2 linked regions of the Homo sapiens genome follow. Each later gene encodes a partner of the first gene's protein in a complex. Each region holds a gene or a part of one and is shown in the gene's direction. Other genes may lie near its edges.

Evidence for each region. The genes of interacting proteins can lie anywhere in the genome.
Region 2: PRIM2 (region 1) and POLA2 share a complex: the UniProt entries of both Homo sapiens proteins name them as parts of the alpha DNA polymerase complex.

What each region holds. Positions count from the first base shown.
Region 1 is NC_000006.12:57,641,973-57,648,203, forward strand, and holds the end of PRIM2 (DNA primase large subunit), read left to right. Parts: intron 1-3,955; coding exon 3,956-4,186; 3' UTR 4,187-4,878; downstream 4,879-6,231. UniProt on the Homo sapiens protein: Regulatory subunit of the DNA primase complex and component of the DNA polymerase alpha complex (also known as the alpha DNA polymerase-primase complex) which play an essential role in the initiation of DNA synthesis.
Region 2 is NC_000011.10:65,264,440-65,272,949, forward strand, and holds part of POLA2 (DNA polymerase alpha subunit B), read left to right. Parts: intron 1-2,142; coding exon 2,143-2,267; intron 2,268-3,037; coding exon 3,038-3,129; intron 3,130-4,232; coding exon 4,233-4,290; intron 4,291-8,510. UniProt on the Homo sapiens protein: Accessory subunit of the DNA polymerase alpha complex (also known as the alpha DNA polymerase-primase complex) which plays an essential role in the initiation of DNA synthesis.

The sequences.
Region 1 (6,231 bases):
AACCAACCCAAATGCCCACCAATGATAGACTGGGTAAAGAAAATGTGGCACATATACAACATGGAATACTATGAAGCCATTAAAAAGGATGAGTTCATGTCCTTTGCAGGGACATGGATGAAGCTGGAAACCATCATTCTCAGCAAACTAACACAAGAACAGAAACCAAACACTGCATGTTCTCACTCATAAGTGGGAGTTGAACAATGAGAACACATGGACACAGGGAGGGAAATATCACACACCAGGGCCTGTTTGGGGGGGTTGTGCTAGGGGAGGGATGGCATTAGAAGTCCCTAATGTAGATAACAGGTTGGTGGGCGCAGCAAACCACCATGGCATGTGTATGCCTATGTAACCTGCACGTTCTGCACATGGACTCCAGAACTTTAAGTATAATTTAAAAAATATTAATTAAAATGAGGATTCATTAACGATATGCACATACCTTAAATATTATATCTTTTTTTTTTTTTTTTTTTTTTTTTGAGACGGAGTTTCGCTCTGTCGCCCAGGCTGGAGTGCAGTGGCGCGATCTCGACTCACTGCAAGCTCCGCCTCCCGGGTTCACGCCATTCTCCTGCCTCAGCCTCCCGTGTAGCTGGGACTACAGGCACGCGCCACCATGCCCGGCTAATTTTTGTATTTTTAGTAGAGACGGGGTTTCACCGTGTTAGCCAGGATGGTCTCAATCTCCTGACCTCGTGATCCGCCCGTCTCGGCCTCCCAAAGTGCTGGGATTACAGGCGTGAGCCACCACGCCCAGCCCCTTAAATATTATATCTTAAAGTTAAGTCATTTAAATGCCATTTATTAGTTAGGGCAGGGTCTTTTGAGTATCGTTTAGTGTTTGGAATTTGATTTTATCTTTCTTTTATAAACTATACCCATAATACAGCATCAGCAATTTCCAGTTTGGATTCCTTAAAGTAGAAAAGGAACTTGATATATGCAAAGCAATAGGATCTTTCTCCCTCTCCTTCTGTGACTTTCACCTTTTTTTTAAGTGACTTGCTTTTCTTGACTCTTTAAAAACATTTTATTTAGATTTCATAGAACAATTTTTTTTAACATTCATTTTTATTTACTTTTCCCATGGCAACCCTATGACCTAACACTGTTATCTCCATTTCATAGATGGAGAAAATCAGACTTTAAAAAGATTACCCTATTTTGTGCACATTGAAGTCTAATAAATGTATTGCTAACTGACAACTTGAAGCGAGGTATAGAAAATGCCAAGATATTATTATAGCATAAGATACTAGGTTATTTTTGCATGAAATAGTACAACTATGTTTTTCTAATCTTTGTAGCCAAGTTTATCTCTAGAAATAAAATTTATAATGGAGATATCATTATCAGTATGATTTTGCATACAATCTCTTAAAACAGATTTCAGAGCAACTAATGATCTAGTCAGAAGGCCTGAATTTTAATTCAGACAAAACCAGTTACTAATTCTATGACCTTGAATAAACCATCTATTCTCCTTAGGCCTCTGTACATGGAGGAGATTGAATTTAATGGATTCCCCAAGGTCTTTCTAATCTCTGATTCTCTGTTTACAAACTATTTTACAAACTGTAAAGCCTTCTGATTAAAATGTATTAGACAATAAACATACTTTTTGTGAAACACATTGCAAAATGCAAAATTTATATTGGATTTCCCAGTTTTTAATGAATTGGGTGAAAATTGAATGTAATAAAAAAGTTCACAAATGATTCCATTGTTAATAAAAATTATAAAACATTTCAGAAACATTTTGAAATCAAGCAGCTAAGTTAAAAAAATGAAGCAAAGATAAAAATTTGTTCTTAATGATCTATAACTCTTAAAATCAGTCTGTATACTATCCATCTGTTACACACTGGAATTACTATAAAATTAGCCTAACATGTATTAACAACTAGCAAAAGAGAATCAGAGATTCCTAGGGTGCTTAGATAAGTATTACCAGAAAAGACTCATGTTTCTGTCTGCTGGTCCGTCCACCAGTAGGGTTCATTCTAGACCATGGCAGCAACCCCTTTTTCCCTGGCCAATTCATTTTAATCTACTAAAAGATTATACATAGCTTTAATCACACCACGTCTCTTTTTAAGGGTTTTTGGTGACTCTGTGTTGCCTAGAGAATTAGGTCTTGACCACTTACCCTGATTTTCAAGGCTCTCTCAGGCTGGCCCCTGCCTGTCTTTCCAACCTCATTCCTTATTGTTTCCTTGTATGTGCCTTTCATAGTAGGCTATGTGAACTATTTAATATTTGCTTTCCCAGGACATTCCCTCTTTACCTTGCTCATGTGGTCCTGCTGCAAATATTGCCTTTCCCCTCATCATCCCAGCTTTTCACCCTCTCCATCTTTCCAGACGCAACTCAAATAGCACTCCTCTTACAAAGCCTTCCTTGATCTCCTCAGCCGAAATTTCTCTCTACTGTGGAGTGTAATAGGCCTTTATCTGTGACCCTCATCAGTTCTCCATTCTTGGTAGAGGTTTTTAAGTATATGACTTACTGGGTTGGAAATTTGAGTTAGTCAAATGTATTCCTGTATGCTGAATAGTGAATAGTTTATAACACAGTCTTTTATATAGTAAGGCTTTAATTAAATATGCAAAATTATCACTGGTATACACTATTTCTGGGTTCACTTCACCAAATATTTATTAGATACCTACAGTGTGCAAGTCACTTCAGTACGAAGAGTGAGACGTAAAAGGATTAGTTAATACAAGACAGATGAACAAAAGAAATGGAATAACTTCTCAGTTTCCAAAAACTTGATAAATGAAAATACCACCCAAGAAACCAACAGTCACTCACTCAAGCAAAATGATATTTTTGTTGTCAACTCCAACTGCAGAAGGCGAGAAGGCAGGGATTTGAGACTGTGGAAAGTGAAACTGAATATAAGGAGAGATTACTAGAGTGCATAATTTGAAATGATACTCAAAATTAAAGTTTAATGATAGTATTTGAGAAAAAATAACATAAGTTATGAACCAGGCATGTTTGTATTCAGTCACAGTGAAATTTACAAGAAGAGATTTTCTGTAAAAAGACCAAGGAAAGGCCAAGATTAGAATGAAGAATTACATTGACTTAGGTTGCTTTTTCAGTTTATATCATACTAAATGAGTGCATATGCCAGACTTACAAGTCAGCTCTAAAACACAAGTGGTATCAGGGACCAGTATCAAAATGATCAAAAATGATTTTACGATCACTTAAAAACCCACAAATATTTACTGGCCTACAATGTGGTAGGCCTTTTGCTTGGAACTGGGGATACAATAATGAATCACACAGGTCCCTAACCTGTGCCTCACTAACATACAATGTCATTCACACACACACACACACACACACACACACACACACACACACACACACACATTTGTATTCCAAACATATTTTTATAGTTTTCTAATTTTTTGTTTTGACGTAATTGTCAACCAGAATTGGTAATGTTTTGGGTATTGCCAGAATTGAGGGCTTGGTGTAGATGGGAGGTGGCAGGTGGGAGTTGGGGGCTGGGGAGGTGAGAGAAAGGTGTCTAGTATGCCCCAAGGATGAATGGTGATACCAATCACTGAGAGCAAAGGATGGGGAGAGGGGAAAGGATACGTTTCCTGTTGGGTTTGAGCTGCCTTTGAGCCATCTTAGATGTTGAGTAGGTGTTGGATATGGGACTGAAACTAGATAGGGAACTGGAGCCAAACACAGAGGCTCAGACTAGAAATATAAATGTGGGAGCCATTTAGGTTTGGGTAGTGGTTGAAGCTCTCTTTGAATGAAATGGTGTAAGTAGCTGATTAAGTGTTAGAATGCAAACAGCTAGAATCCATGTTTCAGGTATTAAGTTTTAAACAAGTACTAAAACAGCTTTTGAAACTCATATATTTATAGCTTTGCCATGCATTAATGCAATATAAATTTCCTTCCTTTACAGGTGGATGATTGTGGCTTTTCTTTGAATCATCCTAATCAGTTCTTTTGTGAGAGCCAACGTATTCTAAATGGTGGTAAAGACATAAAGAAGGAACCTATCCAACCAGAAACTCCTCAACCCAAACCAAGTGTCCAGAAAACCAAGGATGCATCATCTGCTCTGGCCTCTTTAAATTCCTCTCTGGAAATGGATATGGAAGGACTAGAAGATTACTTTAGTGAAGATTCTTAGGCAGTTTTATAACCCTTTTTCCTCAATAGCCTGTTTCCTGTTTTTAAGATTTTGCCTTTGTTGTTGAAAAAGGGTTTCACTCTGTCACCAAGGCTTAGTGCAGTGACACAATTACAGCTGATTGCAGCCTTGACCTTCCCAGCTCAAGTGATCCTCCTACCTCAGCCTCCCAAGTAGTTAGGACCACAGGTGTGCACCTCATATCCAGATAATTTTTTTCAATTTTTTTTTGTAGAGGTGGGGGGTCTCCCTATGTTGCCCAGGCAGATCTCAGACTCCTGGGCTCAAGCGATCCTCACACCTCAGCGTCCCAGAGTGCTGGGATTACGGTTGTGAGCCACTGTGCCTGGCCTTTTTTTTTTTTTTAACCTTTTTGTTTAACTTCTCTCTTCACTGCATCCCAATCCATCTACAGGCATGCACACTTATTAGGAAAGGAGGTTTGAGGTAACAACAGAGACTTTCACTATATTTTGCTTTGACAGAAGGAAAGAGGAGGAGTTTCTATTAAAATCTGTCACTTGAGTGATGTCATTTAAGTCCTATTTTAGGAGATAAAAACAGCTTTGGGGACTGGTTAAAGTCCCCCAGAAACTACAATAAAGAACAACTTTTGTTTTAACTCTTAATCACTTTGTAATTTTGACTCAATCCTTTTCTGGACCATTTTTGTTAATAAATATCAAAGTGTACATGACAGTGTCTGCGTATAATTGGGAGAGTCTTATGTCGTAACAGATTGGACATTACTTCAGTTTTAAAATGGTAATTTGGAGTATCCAACACACTGCTGATCACTAATGAAGATTTTAAACTTTTCTTTACCTTTTTTTAAGAGTTGACCTATTTGTGGTTATTCTACATCAGGCACCTTTGAGTGGCACCAGACCCTCCTGAGTGAACTGTGACTTGGGAATTAACATAAAGTATAGCCAGTTATATTTATTAAGGAATAATAGGGATATTTTATTATGTAAAATAATGGCACGTCTTATCTGCTGCCATTACTCTGGGGACAGGTTCATGAAGAATAGACAATTACCAAGCAAGAAGGTTGTACATATAAAATAAAGTGTTTATTTTACCCTCCAACTTCCATACCTTATTACTTCTGTAGTTGCTGTGAATTACCAAATAGATTTGGTAAATTAAATTAATTTACTTGAGCAATGAATAGTGATACTTATAGTAACCCCCTCCTTTCAGTGCCAGCAATAGAATTTAATAAATGTTGTGGATGATTACAAACATACGAGATCAATGCCCTGTTCTCTCTGCCTGCTTTTGTCAAGGGAGTAAGGTGAAGTTGATGATCCCTGGCACGTATGCCTTGTGGAGCAGTGCCATTGTGGATACCCTCATCTAAATAGTGATTTCCTCCTGGGGCTCTACTCACTCACCAATAGGATTTGGGGTGCTCAGGAAACCCTGTTTGAAACATAGTTCTTCCTCATCTATTACCTTGGAATATGTGAAAAGTATTCGTCTATTTCTGTCTTCTTTTCCTGGTAAAGAGGGATACTTTTATCCTTTTGAATCAGATAGTAACTAAATTGAAAAGAGCACATTGTATTCAGAAAACTAGACTGTTAGCAGCACCATATTTTTAATCATGTGATAAACTGCATCATGATGAAAAGGATTAAACAGGATCAGATCATCAGAAACTAAAAATGTCAACTAATTGAGTTTTCATTTTAGGCTTCTGAGTCAAAGATTTCTTGGAATATTTAGCAACATATAATTAAATGAGATACTATCTATCTAAACTTTTACTTGTCTTGGTGAATTATTATTACCTAGTTCAGAAAATAGTATTATTCCACTACAAATTACCCCTATAAATCTCTGCCTTCTGAAACCATCTGCTACTCCCTTCATCATTTGTCGTTCTCAACAGGAATCTGATGATTGCCTACCACTTTATCCATGGACTGCAAAACCACAAGTCCTTCTTTAAAAAAAAAAAAAAAGAACAAGTGCTACCTGGAGCTGTTTTAACCACAGAATTAAGTTAGCTTTAGAAAGCCGAGCATAGAAATGTA
Region 2 (8,510 bases), on another chromosome or scaffold:
GGTGATCCGCCCACCCTGGCCTCCCAAAGTGCTGGGATTACACTGCGCCAGGCCCCTGGTCTCTTTACTCTGAGTCTTCCAGATGATTGTTTTCCACCTTCTCCTGTAACATCCTTCTGTCCCACCCTCACTCTCAGCTGACAAATTTCTATTATTTGCTGAAAAATGTAGAAGCATTAGAAAACTTCGATCAGCTACCACCATTATGTCTCACTGACCCATATCTGTGGCATATACCTAGCCTTCTTTCCTATTATAATGAATAAGCTTTCCGTATTCCTAGCAAAATCCAAGTCCTCCACTTGAGTCCTAAACCCCATTCCTTCTGAAGCAATTAAGGACATCACTGGTAATTCTCCTGTCTTACATATTTTCTATTTTCCTTGCTACAAGATTTTTTTCCTACTAGTATAGAAATGTGCTTCCAATCTTGCCTTTAAAATACTCTGTTGACCCTACTTCCCACTCCAGTTCTCTCCTTCCCAATTACAGCAGACCTCAAAAGGGTCGGCCGGGTGCGGTGGCTCACGCCTGTAATCCGAGCACTTTGGGAGGCGGAGGAGGGCGGATCACAAGGTCAAGAGATGGAGACCATCCTGGCCAACGTGGTGAAACCCGGTCTCTACTTAAAATACAAAAATTAGCTGGGCATGGTGGCGCATGCCTGTAGTCCCAGCTACTTGGGAGGCTGAGACAGGAGAATCGCTTGAATCGGGGAGGTGGAGGTTGCAATGAGCCGAGATCGTGCCACTGCATTCCAGCCTGGCAACAGAGTGCAACTCTGTCTCCAAAAAAAAAAGGGGGGGGGCCTTGCCATCTTTAAATATTTCCTCCTTAAATCCATTTCAGTAAGTTCTTTTGTTGCCACCACTTCACCAAAGCTGCTCTACTCAAGGTCACCAGTGACCTTCACCATGCTAAAACCAGTGATGAATTTTCAGTCCTCATCTTGAATTGAATTAGCACCGGCACTTGACACTGTTTGTCATTTTTTCTTTTTTTAAACACATTTTTCTTTTAGCTTCTTAGACACTACTAGTTTTTCTTTCTTTTTTTTCTGAGACAGGGTCTTGCTCTGTTGCCCAGGCTGGAGTATAATGGGCAAATCACAGCTCACTGCAGCCTCAACCTCCTTGGCTCAAGCAATCCTTCCACCTCAGCCCCCAAGTAGCTGTAACTACAGGCACATGCCACCAAGCCCACCTAATTGTTGTATTTTTTATAGAAACGGTTTCACCCTGTTGCCCAAGCTGGTCTCAAACTTCTGGGTTCAAACAGTCTGCCCACCTCAACCTCACAAAATACTGGATTACAGGCGTGAGCCACTGCATCCGGCTTACTCCTAGTTTTTCTTCAGCTTTGCTTGTGTCACCGCTTCTCAGGCTTTGCCGATTCATCCTCAGAGGCCCTAAGGCGCCCCAAGACTCAAGCCTGGGATCTTTTCTCCCTTCTAGATACGCTCACTCCCTTGGCGATCTCACCTGGGGTCTCATAGCTTTATATCCCATGTATTTACTGATGGTTCCCAAATTTATACCTCCGCCCACAACCCTTGCCTGAACTACAGGCTGGTTTGTTCAGCCTGCTGTCTCCAGTTGGATGTCTAAATGGCACCTCAAACTCTGCATGTCTAAAACTAAGCTCCTGGTATCTCCTCTCTCTCCTCAGAGTAGTTCCTCTGGCTCTTTTCCCCATCTCAGTTAATAGGGACGCCACTCTTCCTGTTGCACAGGCTAAAAATATCAGCATCATCCTTGACTTTCTTTTTCTCATACCTTACATTCAGTTAGCAGATCCCACTGGCTTCACTTCCAGCATGTAAAGTCCTATCCAGAGTCCAGCCACTTCTCGCCATCTCCACTGCCACCACCTTGATCCAAGCCACCATCATCTCTCACCTGGGCTTTTCCATGATTCTTTAATTGGTCCCCCTGATTCTGCCCTTATCCTCTTTTGTCTCCCCTCAGTGGTGAGCTTTGTAAGGACAAGGATGCTTCTGTTTTCTCATTGCCCAAAACAGTGCCTGGCACTAATAGATTCTGAATAAACATTGATGGAGTAAACCAGGATTATTTTTGCTTTTCTAGGTGAAACTTCGAGAAATGAACTAAGTTTTTACTTGTCCAATTTTCCTTTCTACAGTGGTAGAGCTTTGTGTTCAGTATGGACAGAATGAGGAGGGAATGGTAGGCGAGCTTATAGCCTTCTGCACCAGCACACATAAAGTTGGCCTTACCTCAGAGATCCTGAACTCTTTTGAGCATGAGGTAAGAACAAAATGAAAGCAAACTAATAATGTGATTCTCCATTTCTGCTCTACAGGGGAGGCATTGTGATATATTGAGAGGAGTGTGGGCTTTCGAGTCAGGCCTGGATTCCAGTCCCAGTGTGAGCTTGGACAAACTATGTCCCTGAGCCTCAGTTTCCTTTTCTGACATTGGGTCTAATAATCTGTATTTTTTATGATTGTTATAAGAATTAAATGGGGCTGGGCGCCGTGGCTCATGCCCATAATCCCAGAACTTTGGGAGGCCGAGGCAGGCAGATCACAAGGTCAGGAGTTCAAGACCAGCCTGGCCAACGTGGTGAAACCCTGTCTCTACTAAAAATACAAAAATTAGTTGGGCATGGTGGCAGGCGCCTGTAATCCCAGGTACTCGGAAAGCTGAGGAAGGAGAATCGCTTGAACCGAGGAGGTGGAGGTTGCAGTGAGCTGAGATTGCGCCACTGCACTCCAGCCTGGGACAGAGCGAGACTCCATCTCAAAAAAAAAAGAAATGAGAATGGACATAAAGCACTTAAAACTATGCCCAGCAGGTGATAAGTCTTCACCAAATAATTGGTATTATTAGGATTGTTATATGTTATAGACAGTCATGGGATGTCTTTGTTTTTAGTCTGTGTGTATCTTAATTCTTTGAGGAATGTTAGATCTTTGATTATATTTTGAATACCTTTTATTATCTCAAGGCTTTTGAAAACACCTCTGCTATTACTTGACTATGAAGTACTGTATTCACTATCTTTTCTTTTTCAGTTTCTGAGCAAAAGATTATCGAAAGCCAGGCATAGTACCTGCAAGGACAGTGGCCATGCAGGAGCTAGAGACATTGTTTCCATTCAAGAGCTGTATCCTTTTCTGCTGAAGGTCTTTGCACCAAGCTACATGTTGTATTTTATAATTTGTCTGTAGTCGCATGTGTAATTTAAAAACAAATAATAAGGCCGGGCACGGTGGCTCAGGCCTGTAATCCCAGCACTTTTGGAGGCCGAGGCAAGCAGATCACTTGAGCCCAGGAATTTGTGACCAACCTGGGCAACATGGTGAAACCCTGTCTCTATCAAAAGTACAAATTTTTTTTTTTTTTTGAGTTGGAGTTTCGCTCTTTTTGCCCAGGCTGAAGTGCAATGGTGCAATCTCAGCTCACTGCAACCTCTGCCTCCCAATCTCAAGTGATTCTCCTGCCTCAGCCTCCTGAGTAGCTGGGATTACAGGTGCACACCACCACACCTGGATAATTTTGTATTTTTTTTGGTAGAGACAGGGTTTCACCATGTTGGCCAGCTGGTCTCGAACTCCTGACCTCAGGTGATCCGCCTGCCTAGGCCTCCCAAAGTCCTGGGATTACAGGCGTGAGTCACCGTGCCCGGCCAAAGTACAAATTAAAAAATAATAATAATAAGCTGGGTGTGGTGATGTACGCCTGTAGATCCAGCTAGTTGGTAGGCTGAGGTGAGAAAATCTCTTGAACCTGGGATGTGGAAGTTGCAGTAATCTGAGATCAGGCCACTGCACTCCATCCTGGACGACGAGGAAACCCCATCTCAATAATAATAATAGTAAAAATTGCCTAATATTGAGATTTCTTCTAGCAATCAGCCCTTGCCTTATATGAAAGTTTATTATTATTATTATTATTTTTTTTTTTTGAGATGGAGTCTCGCTGTGTCGCCCATGCTGGAGTGCAGTGGTGTGATCTCAGCTCACTGCAAGCTCCGTCTCCTGGGTTCATGCCATTCTCCTGCCTCAGCCTCCCGAGTAGCTGGGACTACAGGCGCCCGGCTAATTTTTTGTATTTTTTTTAGTAGAGACGGGGTTTCACTGTGTTAGCCAGGATGGTCTCTGTCTCCTGATCTCGTGATCCGCCCATCTCGGCCTCCCAAAGTGCTGGGATTACAGGCATGAGCTACCGTGCCCAGCCATTATTGTTTTTCTTAACCAGTGTTCTTAGAATTGAAGTGGAAGAAGAAGAGGAAATCCTCTTGAACTCTTACACCACACCTTCAAAGGTAAGTAAACAGTGTTTGGACATTGCATTTTACAAGTAACATTTTAAAATAGTTTCACAACATTTGAAGATCTGAGGGAAAAAATCAACCACTCTCATGCATTTCCTACTATATTTCCACTTATACATCTTCCTTTCTGATCATATGTCTAAATGTTTTACATAATGGCAGTCCTTATAAACATATAGTTATCCTGCTTTTCTCAGCACAACATAAAACATTTCTATAAACATAATTTCTCCATAATTGCCCTTTTTGAATAGTTTCATAGTTTTATACTATAATTGAATAATTCAGTTCTGTGTTGGATCCCAGTGTGAAAGGTCAAGTAGGGTAGTGGAAAAGCATTGCCTTCAAAGTCTGAGTCAGAAGACCTAGGTGACCTGGAGTGAGTTGTTTTATCTCTCTGAGACAGTTTCCTTATCCATAATATCAGGATTCATTCATTCAGTTATCCAGCAACAACTATGTGGCCAGGCGCAGTGGCTCATGCCTGTAATCCCAGCACTTTGGGAGGCTGAGGCAGGCGGATCACGAGGTCAGGAGATCGAGACCATCCTGGTTAACATGGTGAAACTCTGTCTCTACCATAAATACAAAAAAAGAAATTAGCCGGGCGTGGTGGTGGGCGCCTGTAGTCCCAGCTACTTGGGAGGCTGAGGCAGGAGAATGGCGGGAACCTGGGAGGCAGAGCTTGCAGTGAGCCGAGATCGCGCTACTGCACTCCAGCCTGGGCGACAGAGCGAGACTCCGTCTCAAAAAAAAAAAAAAAAACAACAACAACAACTATGTACTGCACTAGACATTGAGTAAACAATGGTGAATGAAACAGACATGGATGGGCTCTGCCCTCAAGAAGCTGACAGCCAGTGCACAATATCCCCCATCTTGGAGGGCTTGAAGAGGAAATAAATAGGTAAAGTATCAGGCCCTATGCAATGTATTCAGTAATGGTAACTATTCTTTATACTAACTAAATAAGTTTGTAGACATTCATAAACATGGAGTGAGCCTTAATTATTCAAAGTAAACTACATCATAAGAAAGAGGTAATTTACATTGCCCTATGCAATGTATTCAGTAATAGTAATTATTCTTTTTTGTTGTTGTTGTTGTTGTTTTGAGATGGAGTTTTCCTCTTGTTGCCCAGGCTGGAGTGCAATGGCACGATCTCGGGTCACTGCAACCTCCGCCTCCCGGGTTCAAGCAATTCTGCCTCAGCCTCCTGAGTAGCTGGGATTACAGGCATGCGCCACTACGGCCAGCTAATTTTTGTATTTTTAGTAGAGACGGGGTTTCACCATGTCAGCCAGGCTGGTCTCGTACTCCTCACCTGCGGTGATCCACCTGCCTCGGCCTCCAAAGTGCTGGGATTACAGATGTGAGCCACCGTGCCCAGCCCAGTAATTATTCTTTATACTAACTAAATAAATTTGTAGAAATTCATAAACATGGAGGGAGCCTTAATTATTCAAAGTAAATTACATCATAAGAAAGAAGGTAAGGGCTGGGTGCAGTGGCTCATGCCTGTAATCCCAGCACTCCGGGAGACCAAGGCAGGAGGATCAGTGACCAGAGATCATGCCGCTGCTCTACAGCCTGGATGACAAAGTGAGACCCTGTCTCAGGAAGAAAGAAGGTAAATAGTTTAGATATGCCTGTGGAGAGTAAGAGGGCCAAAAATGTGCCCCATGAAGTTGCTAACACAAAACCAGGTGCATATAATATTAAAAGAAATAATTAGGTGTTTGTTAGAGTTTCTTAAAATTGGAGAGACTATAACTCATTTGATTTTCCTCCTAAAGTGGTTTTCTGAGTCCATATCCCAGTGAAGGACACCTCCGTTCTTCCATTGACTCAGGCCAAGAACCTTGGAGACCTCCTTAAATCCTTTTTCTCTCACACCCCACATCCAACTTAGCTACCAGTCCTGTCATCCCTCTCCAGGATCTGGCCACCTCTCACCATTTCCACTGCTACCACCAGGTCCACAGCATCATTGTCTCCTGAATGATTGGGACAGCCTCCTAACTAGTCCATTGGCTTCTTTCTGCCATATCCACCTCTAACCACCTCTCCACCCAGCAGCCAGAGTGCTCCTTTCCAGCAAAAGGTCAGGTTTTCTTGCTCACATCTCTCCCACTGGCTTTTCGTCTTTCCTCCTGATATGCAAAGTTTGAACCAGCATATGTGAAGTTCTGTAGGAGCTGGCCCCCTCCTCCTTCTGTCCTCTTTCCCTGCTCCCCTTTGCTCTCTGCTTCTGCCGTGCCAAATATGGGTTCATTTCCTATGTCTCCTTGTCAGGGAACAAGCCTGCCTAAAAGAACAAAGCCCTTCTTCTGTTTTATTTTCTTGCTTTATTTTTCTCCTTATTATTCTCTTGCTTTATTACCACCAAACATGTTATATACTTACTTTTTTGTTTTAGTCGGCCTTCCCTCCATTAGATGGAAGCTCCTTGAGAATAGAGACTTTGTTTTTACTTGCTGCTGTTTTCCCAGCACCCTGGCATGTTAATAGTTGTTGAAAGATCTCTGAATAAGGGAGTGTGGTTGGCTCTCTCAATTGCAATACCAATGGGACCACCACGGTTTTATCTGGTTAACAGCTTCACAGATCCAGAATTTTATGTAATTTGTCTGTGTATCCAGAATTGATCATATTCCGGAGTCTGACTCATGGTAACCCAGCTGTCAGTAGACTGATGCGTAAGCCAGGTGCAAATTTGTTTACTTTACTATTGAAGTAGATACCCTTCCAATGACTGAAATCCCATATTTAGGATACCCCATTCCTGCTATGGAAATACTTAGGAGACTAAATTGTGAATCAAAGTTTGTGACTGTGAGGCCGAGTGCAGTGGCTCACACCTGTAATCCCAGCACTTCGGGAGGCTGAGGCAGGTGGATCACTTGAGGTCAGGAGTTCGAGACCAGCGAAACTCCATCTCTACTCAAAAAATTAGCTGGGCATGGTGGTGGTGCCTATAATCCCAGCCACTCAGGAGGCTGAGGCAGGAGAATCGCTTGAACCCGGGAGGTGGAAGTTGCAGTGAGCCAAGATTACACCACTGCCCTCCAGGCTGGATGACAGAACCAGACTCCGTCTGAAAAAAAAAAAAAAAAAAAAGTTTGTGACTGTGAATTCCACGCTAAATGAGTTGGAGTGAAATGTTGAGCAAACAATATGTCCAGGCTAGAGATACGTAAAATGCTTAGAACAGTACTTATCACATGGAAATTGTTCAGTCACTGTTAGGCCATGCATCAATGGCAGCATGATAAAATAGTCAAAGTGTGGCCAGGCATGGTGGCTCACACCTGTAATCCCAGCACTTTGGGAGGCCGAGGTGGGAGGATCACTGGAGGTCAGGGGTTCGAGACCAGTCTGGCCACCATGGTGAAACCCCATCGCTACAAAAGTACAAAAATTAGCTAGGCATGATGGTGGGTGTCTGTAATCCCAGCTACTCGAGAGGCTGAGACAGAAGAAACACTTGAACCCAGGAGGCGGAGGTTGCAGTGAGCTGAGATCATGCCATTGCACTTCAGCCTGGGCGAGAAAGTGAGACTCCATCTCAAAAAAAAAGAAAAGTGTGAATGTTGGCCTTTCCATACAAACAGTGCCAGGCTGAGGTTGCCTGACCCTTGTCAGGTCTTGGGAACAGGTGTCCCTCTGCTATAGAGGTAAATATGATATGTCAGTGATTTTAGCTTATCACTATTAAATATTTCACCTGTACGATTGACAGCTGTTCTTTTGCTTCCGTGTTCACCATAAATCTGCTGATGATTTGGCTGCCATGTCCCTAACGGAGAGAATGTGTTAGCCTGAGGACTTGACGTTCCCATACCCTTGGCAATTATATTTCTAGTAAATTAATAAACTGGCATCCTTGGTTATAATTTGATTTTCTCTGTGAGTGTGAGAATGTGCTTACCCTAGGATATGAAAATATGGTACCATTGGTGACTACATTTCTGATTAAAAATGATGAAACCGGCCACTGCGGTGGCTCACGCCTGTAATCCCAGCACTTTGGGAGGCTGAGATGGGTGGATCACCTGAGGTCAGGAGTTCAAGACCAGCCTGGCCAACATGGTGAAACCCTGTCTCTACTAAAAATACAAAAATATTAGCCGGGCGTGGCAGCGGGCGCCTGTAATCCCAGCTACTCGGGAGGCTGAGGCAGGAGAATTGCTTGAACAGAGGCGGAGGTT